Linked DNA regions of Homo sapiens: region 2 is linked to region 1. The links come from fine-mapping of genetic effects on gene expression. A gene starts in region 1. The other region holds a variant in brackets. All regions are shown on one strand. Distances are from middle to middle. Region 1 holds the start of TP73 (tumor protein p73). Region 2 overlaps TP73 (tumor protein p73).

Region 1 (5,317 bases):
GCCTTAGCCCTCCCCACACTGGAAAACAAAGGCAAGCCGCAAAATGGCAGCTCGTTACATGAAACACACACCAAAAGTATTTTTTGCGTGTTTTTTTGAGACAGAGTCTCGCTCTGTTGCCCGGGCTGGAGTGCAGTGGGGTGATCTCGGCTCACTGCAACCTCTGCCTCCCAAGTTCAAGCGATTCTCCTGCCTCAGCCTCCTGAGTAGCTGAGACTACAGGCACCAGACACCACCCCCGGCTAATTTTTGTATTTTTGGTGGGGACAAGATTTCACCATTTTGCCCAGGCTGGTCTTGAACTCCTGATCTCAAGTGATCCACCCACCTCGGCCTCCCAAAGGGCTGAGATTACAGGCGTGGGCCACGGCGCCTGGCCTTAAAGGATGTTTTGAAGACTTTTTCTGACTTTTTGCAAACACAGGGTTCACCGTGTACGCGATGTCACTTTGGTGTGCTCGGAATCTCAGGGTTAATACCGCCGCTGGGCAAGGGCAGGGCCTCGTCCGGGTTCTGGAGTGGGTGTGCGGCTCCTCTCTCGGCCCTCAGCCTCTTCTCTTCTCTCCACTTTAGCCGTGCCTTTCACACGTGCTCAGTGTTATCAATCCATTCTTGGACCTGGGTGGGGCATGCCCTATAAATAAATACTAAACCAGGCATCCTTGCCCCAGTGCATACTTCTGACAGATGCCATCAGCTTCCACCCACGCCTTGGGCAGATGCCTGCCTCACTGCCATCCCTCCTGCCCTGGAGATACCTACCAGATACTAAGGAGCCGGGTCTCTCCCCAGGGCTCCTGGCTCTCCCAGCTCTGGAACAGCACCTGGGACCCGAAGCCATCATGTGTGAGGACACTGAGTGGGTGCCAGGCACTCTCCCAAGCCCTTCGGACGGCACCTCACTGACTGTTCTCCAAGCCTCTGAGGCAGGAACTACTATTACCCGACTCTGCAGATGGGTAACCTGAGGCTCCAAGTGGTTAAGTGACTTGCTGGAGTAAATGGGGAAGAGGAGATTTGAACCCCAGCATTCTGACTTCCATACTACCCCATTAACCACTGTGCCAGACCAGCTTCTCCATGCGACTGGCCTTCGGGATTTGGAGACAGCTACTGTTCGCTGTAGCTTTCACGAGAAGGACTGCAAGGCAGGGCTCACATCCCGAGCCATTCTCTGGTGGCCGCCGCGCATAGACAAGCCCCGCTCAGGTCCGCCTTCCGTTCACCCCAGGCTACCTCTGATTGACAATAGGCAGCTGCCACACTGCAGCCTCTGACACCAACTTTTATCTTATTTCATCTTATTTTTTGAGACAGAGTCTTGCTCTGTTGCCCAGGCTGGAGTGCAGTGGCATGATATCAGCTCGCTGCAACCTCTCCATCCCAGGTTCAAGCAATTCTTGTGCCTCAGCCTCCCGAGTAGCTGGGAGTACAGGTGCCTGCCACCATGCCCAGCTAATTTTTGTATTTCAAGTAGAGACTGGGTTTCACCATGATGGCCAGGCTGGTCTCGAACTCCTGACCTCAGGTGATCCACCCACCTTGGCCTCCCAAAGGCTGTGAGGGATGACAGGCGTGAGCTACCGTGCCCAGCCAACTTTTTATCTTATTTTAAAAACTACATACGTAATGCATACATTCATATATGGCAACATTTCAAACACCGTGTCCTGTTCTTAATGAAATGCTTTTTAATCTTTCCCCGAATAAATCCAAAGAGGGGTGGCTCAGCGCTCAGTAAGTGCCAGAGGCCACGCGCTTTGTTTACTCCTCCCCCAGAGCTAAGGCTGAACAAATAAACAGCAATGACAGCAACAAAAAACAAAACAACAAAAACCAAAGCATTGTGTTAATGAGCCTGAGCCATTTCCAAATGTCCAGACAGTGAATAAACAGATGGCAGCATCTTTGGAAGCAAATGACCTCTGGTCAGAAGTTTGGGGTGCATTGCTTTTCCCTGCACCCTTGCTGGTTGAAGATCGTCTATCTGTCCCCTGTTTATGTAGCAGACGTGTGCATACTACATGGGCTTATCTCCTAGCGTCCAGGCCAAAATACAAGCTGAGCAAAGGTAATCATCGCTCCCCAAGTCCAAGCCCCGGGAAAGGCAGGGGCTGCAGGAGGAGGCGGCCCAGGAGCTAAGGGGGCGTGAGGTGTCTCCCTCCAGGCCGGCCCGGGCCATTTCTTCACGGGCTTTCTCTACCTGGGACCGCTCCGGAGACAGGCCAGGAGCCCTCGACAGACAAACTCAGAGCCACAGGGAGCTGTCCCTCGGGAAACCATCGAAACCGCTTAGTAACCAACTCCATGGGTCAAGGCCCCCGCCCAGATCCTTCTCCCTGTCCAGAGGGGGGCCTGGCCCTGGCTCCTCAGGGAAGCTGAGGCCTCGGGATTGGCACAGCCCTGCAGGTCGGAGGGAGCGCGCGGGCGGGGAGGAGCTTGCTGGCGATTTCCACCTGCACCCGCGCCCCGCACCCCGGCCTCTTCCCGGGGTTACCCTCCCAACGGCCCTCGGAGCCCGGGGTGGAGAGGGGACAGCAGGAGGAGGGCCCTCCCGGAACCCCTGCGGGGCTGTCTTTGGCGCCAAAGGCGGCCGGCGCTGAGGGCAGGACCCGCGTCTCCTCGCAGGCTAGACTCTGGCCGCTCCAGCCTCTCGCGAGCGCCAAGTCCCAGGGGCCGATCCAACTCCGAGGGAGCCCCTGTGTCGCCTTGTCCCAGCTCGTCCCCGATCGCTCTCCCCTCACCTCCCAGCTTCGGAGCTGCGAGCCCAGGTGCCTGCCCAGCGCTGCGCTCCAGCCCCCGCCCGCGGAGCCGAACCGCCCCCCGGCCCTGGGCCTCCTACCTGCAGCCGTCGCAGCCCCGGGCATCGGCGTCCGTCCCGGCTGGCCTGGCGCGGGCCCCGGTTTCGCTGCGTCCCCTTCGCGGGCGCGCGAGCCTCCGGGCGGGTGCGCGGGCGGGGAGGCAGGGCGGGCTGCCCGGCCCCTAGGCGGGTTATATGGGCGCGGGGAGGGGAGGCGCCGCGGGGAGTAGGCGGCCGCGGGCGTTAGCGCCTTTTTAGCCCGGCGCGCGGGAAGGCAGCGCGGGCCACCGAGTCGCGGCGGGGCCAAGGTCTCCTCCCGGCGCTCCGCCTCTCCAGCTGGCCGCGTCCAAGTCGGGGTCCCGGGCGCGCTCTGCCCCGCCTCCTTCCCGCCGCCTTTTGGCGCGCGTCGCTCCTGCAGAGCCCGGCGAGGCCGCCCACGCAGGGCCGAAGCAGGTCCGGCGCCAGGGCCCCTCCCGCGGGCCAGACCCGACCGCGATCTTCGGCAGAGCTGGGGACGCCGGTGCCGACTCTGTGCCCGACGCCTGCGTTTCCCCCGGACTCCCTGCTGTCCCCCAGACGGCCCATCTTTCCTGACACCCGGGTCTCTCCTGGCCGCCGCCACTAGCGCTGGGCTCCTCGGCGCGCGGGGCGCTTGGAATCCAAGGGGCAGGGGATGTGGCCGGCGGGGAACAGGGGTGAGGGGCGGGGAACAGGGGTGAGGGGCGCCGCCCCAGGCCCAGGAGGAGGGGAACGGCTGCTTTCCGCCAAGCAGGGCTTGCCACCCACTTCTCCTGTGGAGCCACGGTCCCGCCCGGCAGAGGATCCCGCGGAGAGCCTCTGGGGGCTGCTCTCCCAACCCCAGCCGGAGTTTGGGCCCCACGTCCTTCCAGGGGTCACCCAGGACGCGAACACTCCCGGGCGGCGGCCAGCACCCTGCTCCCTCCCCCGGCCGCCGCCTGTGGGCTCGGGCTCTGGATCCCGTTCGGTGTTTGGAAGGAGCTCGCGGGCGTCGGTGCGCTTGGAGTTGTTCTCTGCGCGCACCAGACCTGCGCTAGGTCAGGCCGAAGCTCTCTACCGGCCAGCGACACCCGCCGCCCCGCCCGCCTGCTCCTCCTAGGCCATCGGGGCTTCCAGGGCCCTCGACCACGTACACCAGGCCCTGGCTAGGGGACCCGACATGCTGGGCGAGTTCCGAGCGGCTCTCAGTGGCGGCGCTGCTTATGGTCTGATGCTTATGGGGCCCGTGATCTGGCTCCGAACCGATGTCCTCTGCCCATGGTGACCCCCACGTCTTGGAAAGTCGCGTCAGTGAAGCCCGTGGCTTCGCGAGCGAGCCGGGCTGGCGCAGACTGGGTTCTCTGGCCGCAGCGGGTCCGCGCCTGACGGGGAGGGTCCGGCTGACTCGCACATCTTCATGGCTCACCCACTGTTTGCTGGGCGCACGGGGTGGGGACCCAAAGACGAATCCCATGCAGAGGTTTGGGTCTAGTTTTGGCAACAGAAAAGGCCGGCACCGCCGGAGTAGGACGCGCGCGCACCACCATCCATTCGGCCGGGGAGGTTGGGGCGTCCGCGGGGAGCAGACCCGAGGCTGGGCGCCCGGAGGTACGAGCAGGACCCTGGCCGGCTCTCAGCTCCCAGAACCCAGGGCCAGGCGGGGATGTCAGGGTCTGCGCGATCTGGGGGGCCCTAGAGGCGCCGGCGGGGCCTGGCGCGGACTACTAGCGGCCTGCGGGAGCCAGGGGTGGAGGGGGCCGCTGTCTAGGGAAGAGGACCGGGGTCCGGAGTGGGGGTGAGAACGAGGCACGCCCCTGAGCCTGCGAAACCTGCGGACCGAGCGCCCGCGCAGGAGCTCGCTCCCTCTGGGCCCCCAGGTCCCAGACCCGCACGATTCTTCGCCCGGTGCCAGCCCAGATGCGCGCGGGTGATGAACGGGCGGTGGCCGCGATCCACGCGCTCGCTCTGCCCAGTCAGCGGCAAATTCGTTCTCTCCTTGATCTCAGTGGCACTGGAGCGTGAGGCAAGGGCCAGGCGGCAGGTAGAGGGGTCGGACTCAGCAAAAGCAAACAAAACCCCAAGCAAACGAAATAAATACTTATACATTACATACACGATATAATATATGTGCGACAGACACCGTATTACTTATTAAAGATATATTTGTAGGTAAACATATATTTACATGTAAACATACATTTACATATAAATATAAATATATATATATGCATGTGTACACACACGCAGACACACAGGTCGCTCAATTAAATTTGAATTTCAGACTAGCGAGTAATTTTTCCGTATTAGCATGTCCCGTGCAATATTTGGGAACATACTTATAACTAGATTTGTTGTGAATCTGAAATTCAAATTTTACTGTGCTTTCTACATTTTTATCAGCAGCCCTAGCTGGAGGTGCTCAAAGGCCTCCCGGCCTTTGAGGTAAGGTTCTCGGGTCGGAAATCCCTGGTCGGAAGAAACGTGGGCGTTTCCTTTAAAGCCCTGCGGCACAAGAACTAC
Region 2 (5,360 bases), 24 kb before region 1:
CAAAGAGAGACAAAACAGAGAGACAAGGACAAAGAGAGACGGAGAGAGACAAAGGCAGAGAGAGACAGGGACAAAGAGAGACGGAGAGAGACAAAGGCAGAGAGAGACAGGGACAAAGAGAGACAGAGAGATACAAGGACAAAGAGAGAGAGAGACAGAGACAGAGAGACAGGGACAAAGAGAGACAAAACAGAGAGACAAGGACAAAGAGAGACAGAGAGTGAGAGAGACAGAGACAGGGAGAGACAAGGACAAAGAGAGACAGAGAGATGGAGAGAGACAGAGACAGAGAGACAGGGAGAGAGACAGAGAGAGATGGAGAGAGACAGGGAGACAGAGACAGACAGAGACAGACAGAGAAACAGAGGGAAAGAGAGAGGGACAGGGAGACAGACAGCGTGGGAGCCGACGGCATCCCGCCGCACCCCTACTGGAGGTCCAGGGGTTCCGTGAACAGGTGTGCACGGGGCATCCCTCCGCGCAGGGCTCAGGGCTCACAGGAACTGGTCGGCAAAACATGATTTGTGATCTTATGCCTGGGACATGGGCGTTGGCTGTATTTTCAAGTCGGCATCCTGTGAACTCCCCCTGAAGCGACACCCTCTCTTCCCACTGAACCCTGAATGAGGAACAGCGACCCTTCTTGTCAGCGCGCCTCTGCCTGCCGGAGACCCAGCTTCCACATCCCCTGACCGGCACCCACTGTGCACTGCAGGACACCAGCTTGGCCTCTCATCCCTGCCTGGGCACAGGACAGAGGCCAGCGAGCGTGGTCGTGGGTCCCCGATCCCACCCGTCCGGCCCTCCAGGCTCACAGGACAGGCCACCACCAGGAGCATGTGGGGTGGGAAAGGGGCTTCCTCCACGCCAGGAGTTGGGTCCCCAAACATCCCCAGGCCTGTTTGCCTGAGATGTGGGCAGTGGGCCTCCAGGTGCAGGCGTGTGGACCAGCCGGAAGCCCTGGGCAGATGCATCTTCCAGGACACCCCTCCCCACAGTGGGGCTGGGGCAGGGCCCAGGAATCTGCCCCTTTAACAAGCCTCCAGGGGAGTCATGAAGAGCCTGGGACAGGCCCCCTGAGGAGGACACTGTCATGAGGGCCAGCCTTGCCACTGCTCGGGGCCCTGCTGCAGCCACCGGCCTCCCCCATGGGAATCGGGTTCCTCATTAGCCAAAACCAGGACCCGGAAACCTGCCCAGACTTAAAGCACACGGAGGAACTTGAACCGGAAGCCACGAGATGCCTGATTCCCAACTTCCTGGGAAAACGCCAACGCTGGTAGCATTGGTCCCAGGGCCCCACAGGAACACTGCTCACAGGCACAGGCGCCAGGCAGGGGCTCCCCCAACCGGCCTCACACACCTGAGCTGATGACTGGCTCCGCAGGCATCTGGGAGTACTGGGCATGAGGAACAGGAAGCTCTGTTGGGGGTGCAGGGACGCTGCGCTGGGGCAGGGGGAGTATGTGCCCTCTGCCCACAGCCGCCTTTCAGGCAAGGATCCCAGTGGCGAGAAAAATAAGTCAATTCTAATAAAATGGCCTTTCAATTAAATCCAATTTTCCCAACCATTTGCCTTTTAATTTGAAAATTCGTTCACAAGGGGATCACGGTTCTGGGACAAAACAGAAATTGCTTTTGAAACGTTGCCAATAGTTTTAAAAATCATGTGTATCAATGGGGAAAGGAGACCAATTTCATAAGACATCTTTAGGAAGTTTTATCAACATCATAAAATGCAAATACATTATTGGAAGTGTAGGTTTTTCTAAGAAGATTTAGTCTAGGAGGGATGGGCTGGGTGCAGTGGTTCATAACTGTAATCCCAACACTTTAGGAGGCCAAGGAGGGAGGATTACTTGAGCCCAAGGGCTTGAGACCAGCCTGGGCAACACAGGGAGACCTCAGCTCTCCAAAAACTTAAAAAAATATTAGCTGGGCATGAGGGCGTGATGGCATGTGCCTGCAGTCCAAACCACGCAGGGTGCTGAGGTGGGAGAATCACTTGAGCCCAGGGGCTCGAGGCTGCAGTGAGCCATGATTGCACCACTGCACTCCAGTCTGGGCAACAGAGCTAGACCACAACTCTAAAAAAAAAAAAAAAAAAAAGGGAAGGAAGGAAATGAAATAAATGAGTTCTCAGTTGTAACAGGGGC[G/C]TCCAGTGTGTATTACCACAGGTCTTGCAGTGGAAGGCTTTGTGTGGCCACAGCATTTGGGGGTGGTCATTGGGGAGCTGCTGGCCGGCACCCCCCCAGCCCTGGCACCATCAAGTCAGGGCACAGAGTTGCAAAGGACAGTTGTGCTGGGTGTTCCTGGTTACGCTGTAGCCAGGCTGTAGGCTGCTGGCACACCCAGGAAGCAGGGCACCTCGACCCTGCCCCAACTTCCATGAGGCCTCAGACAAGTCCCCTCCCTTTGCCAGGCTGGAAAGGTGACCAGCGTTCCAAGTCCTACAGTGCCCACAGCAGTGGGAGCAGGACAAAGACCAGCCACCGAGGGCCCTCCGGCAAACCCAGACCTCAGCCTGCTTGGATCCTCAACTCCAGGGGCCGCTGTACCAGCTGCACCACAGGGAGAGCCCCCACACACGTGTGACTCAGAACAGGAAAGGAACTCACACCAGCAATTAGGCCCCCACAGCTTCCCCGGGACCCACGGAGCACAGGTGGGCTGGGGAGGGGACTGTGTGGCCCAGAAAACCAGCCTGCCCAAGCTCCCTGGAGCTGAAAACAAGGCTCTCTGATGACTTCTCGGTTTGACTCAGGGCCTTCTGAGGTCTCAGCCTAGGGGTTCTCACCAGGGGCAGTTCCACCCCCAGAGGATATTCCCATGTGGGGACATTTTCCACGGGGTCAGAGGGTGCTGTGGAATCTAGTGTGCAAGACAGGGATGCTGCTTAGCACCCTACGTTGCTCAGGGCAGCTGCCCACAGCAGAACGCACGCCCAGCTGTCGGGGCCGTGGCGGAGAGGGGGTGCTGTGCCATGGCTCCGAGCTGAGGCTGGCCAGGCACTTTGCAGGGCCTCAGGCTCACACGCCAACCCTGCCCCAGTTCAGAGATGAGCAAGTGGAGGCCAGGAGGCCCAGTGGCTGGCCCAAAGCTACTGAGGGCTGAGGAGCTGGGACTCCAGCCAAGCCCAGGTCCTCTGATGGCCTGGCCGCACCCGAATGCTCCCCTCTGCCCTGTGGGGAGGAGTCCGCAGCCGGTGAGGGGCTCTCAGCCTCTCTCATCTCACCCTGCCCAACCCCTCTGGCCTCGTCTTCCATAGCTTCCCACGAAAGCCACAGCCCCCTGTCCCCCTGCCCTGTCCCAAGCATTCCCTCCCTGTCCCCAAGCATCCCCTCCCTGTCCCCTGTTCCTCTGTCCTCTCCCTGTCCCCCTGTCTCCCTGTCCCCCATAGGTTCCTTCCCTGTCCCCTTTCCCTTTGTCCCCTAGCCCCCCATCTTCTATCCCCTCCCTGTCTGCATCCCTCTGTCCCCTCCCCATCTCCTGTTTCTCTGTCCCCTCCCTGTCCCTTGTCCCCATAGATCCCTGCCCTATCCCCATGGGTCCCCTCCCTGTTCCCTGTCCCTTTGACCTCTCCTTCTCCCATCCTCTGTCCCCGTCCTAGCTCCTGTTTCTGTGTCCCCTCCCTGTCCCCGTCCTCCTGTCCCCTCCTTGTCCCCCATCCTCTGTCCCTCCCCGTCTCCTGTCCCTCTGTCCTCTCCCTATCTCTTGTCCCCATGGGTGCCCTCCTTGTCCCCTGTCCCCAGTCCCCACATGCCTGGCTATGTGCTCTCTGTGTTCAGCCTTTGTCTACCACCCCCTTCCTGCCCTCCCATCTCATCCCTATCTCTCCAGGCCAGGCCAGGACCCAGCCTCCTCTAGGAACCCCGTCTCCGGCTGACGCCCCATCCTCTCCCCTCACCACCTGACAGGAGGTGGGAGACCAGACATTTCCTTGGCCATGGGCCCACAGGTAAGGCCTCGTCAGTTCCCCAACCCCTTCCACCTCTGCCCAGGCCTGGGGCAGACAGGGCTCCACAACCACCTTTGATAAGCCAGGACACTCCACCCCGACTGAGCCCACTCTGGAAGAGGCACTCCCCATGGGGACACCCACTCCCACCTGCAGGGGCCCTGGCCGCAGGGCTGCTGTTACCTACCCACCCCTCGGTGGAGCTCTGAGACCGAGCCGTCCGCACTCAGCCTGGGCAGGAGACACAGGCCCCTCTGCCCCGTCTGGCCCAGCCATCCCGGACACTGGCTCTTAAGGGGGATCACAGGAGGGGTGCAGGGTGTCCTCCTCCATTCAGGGAGGAGGGAAAAGCCCCCAGGAACTCCACCCGCCCCGGGCCACCCCTAAAGCAAACATCTCAATGCACTTCTGATTCCGGTGGTTCCCAAACCACCAATGATTTTACCTGTTATTTCAGCAGATCAACGATTCCAATCTGAAGTGGCAAAGAAACCTGGGGCCATTGTGGGAGGAGACACCTGGGCCATTGTGGGAGGAGACACCTGGGCCATTGTGGGAGGAGACACCTGGGCCATTGTGGGAGGAGACACCTGGGCCATTGTGGGAGGAGACACCTGGGCCATTGTGGGAGGAGACACCTGGGCCATTGTGGGAGGAGACACCTGGGCCATTGTGGGAGGAGACACCTGGGCCATTGTGGGAGGAGACACCTGGGCCATTGTGGGAGGAGACACCTGGGCCATTGTGGGAGGAGACACCTGGGCCATTGTGGGAGGAGACACCTGGGCCATTGTGGGAGGAGACACCTGGGCCATTGTGGGAGGAGACACCTGGGCCATTGTGGGAGGAGACCGTCTCAATCCCCTTGTGCCCTTTTCCCAGGGACTCAGGCAGGTCCCAGGACCCAGAACCCAGAAGAGCCCCCGCCTGGGCAGAGGGGTCGGGCGGTCAGCGCACCAGAATGAAGCCAGGCAGGCTGGCCCTGTGTGAGACAGCGGCTCTCCCAGGCAGCAGCCCAGCGGAATTCCTGCAGGGCGTCATCAGAGCCCAGCCTCCTGGGGCCCTCTGTGCCAAGGGGCCTCACTCTCCCCTCCAGCCACCGCAAGAAGAGGGGCCGCTCTCGCTTGGCAGGCTGGGGCCAAGGACAGGGGTCCCCCGGAGTGAGGGCCAGGAGGGCCTCCCTCTCAGGGGCAAGGCCCTCTGCCAGCATTGCCTGCCCCTCCCGACAGAGGCTAAGGACCATGTGGCCTCCCTCTGTGGGTACGATGGGGCCAGGTCCTTCAGACAGGGTTGCCAGGACGGCTTCGTCAGCAGGTCAGGGGCAGGGACGAAGGCCTGTCCGCAGGGCCTGGTGAGGAGGATGCGGCTGAGAGCCCCCCTCACCGCCACAGATGGCACGCCT

What was found.
Region 2: its variant is fine-mapped to the expression of TP73 in whole blood (TOPMed, PIP above 0.99).

The regions. Positions count from the first base shown.
Region 1 is chr1:3,650,167-3,655,483 of GRCh38, reverse strand. It overlaps TP73 (tumor protein p73), which reads right to left and starts at 2,968. Exons shown (of 14, transcript NM_005427.4): 1 at 2,843-2,968. RefSeq lists a silencer at 2,408-3,357 and an enhancer at 4,317-5,160.
Region 2 is chr1:3,674,440-3,679,799 of GRCh38, reverse strand. All of the region lies in intron 1 of TP73 (tumor protein p73), which reads right to left. Among named protein-coding and RNA genes, the nearest start is that of TP73-AS3, 8.2 kb to the right of the region's middle. The variant G/C (reference allele first, on the strand shown) is at 2,157.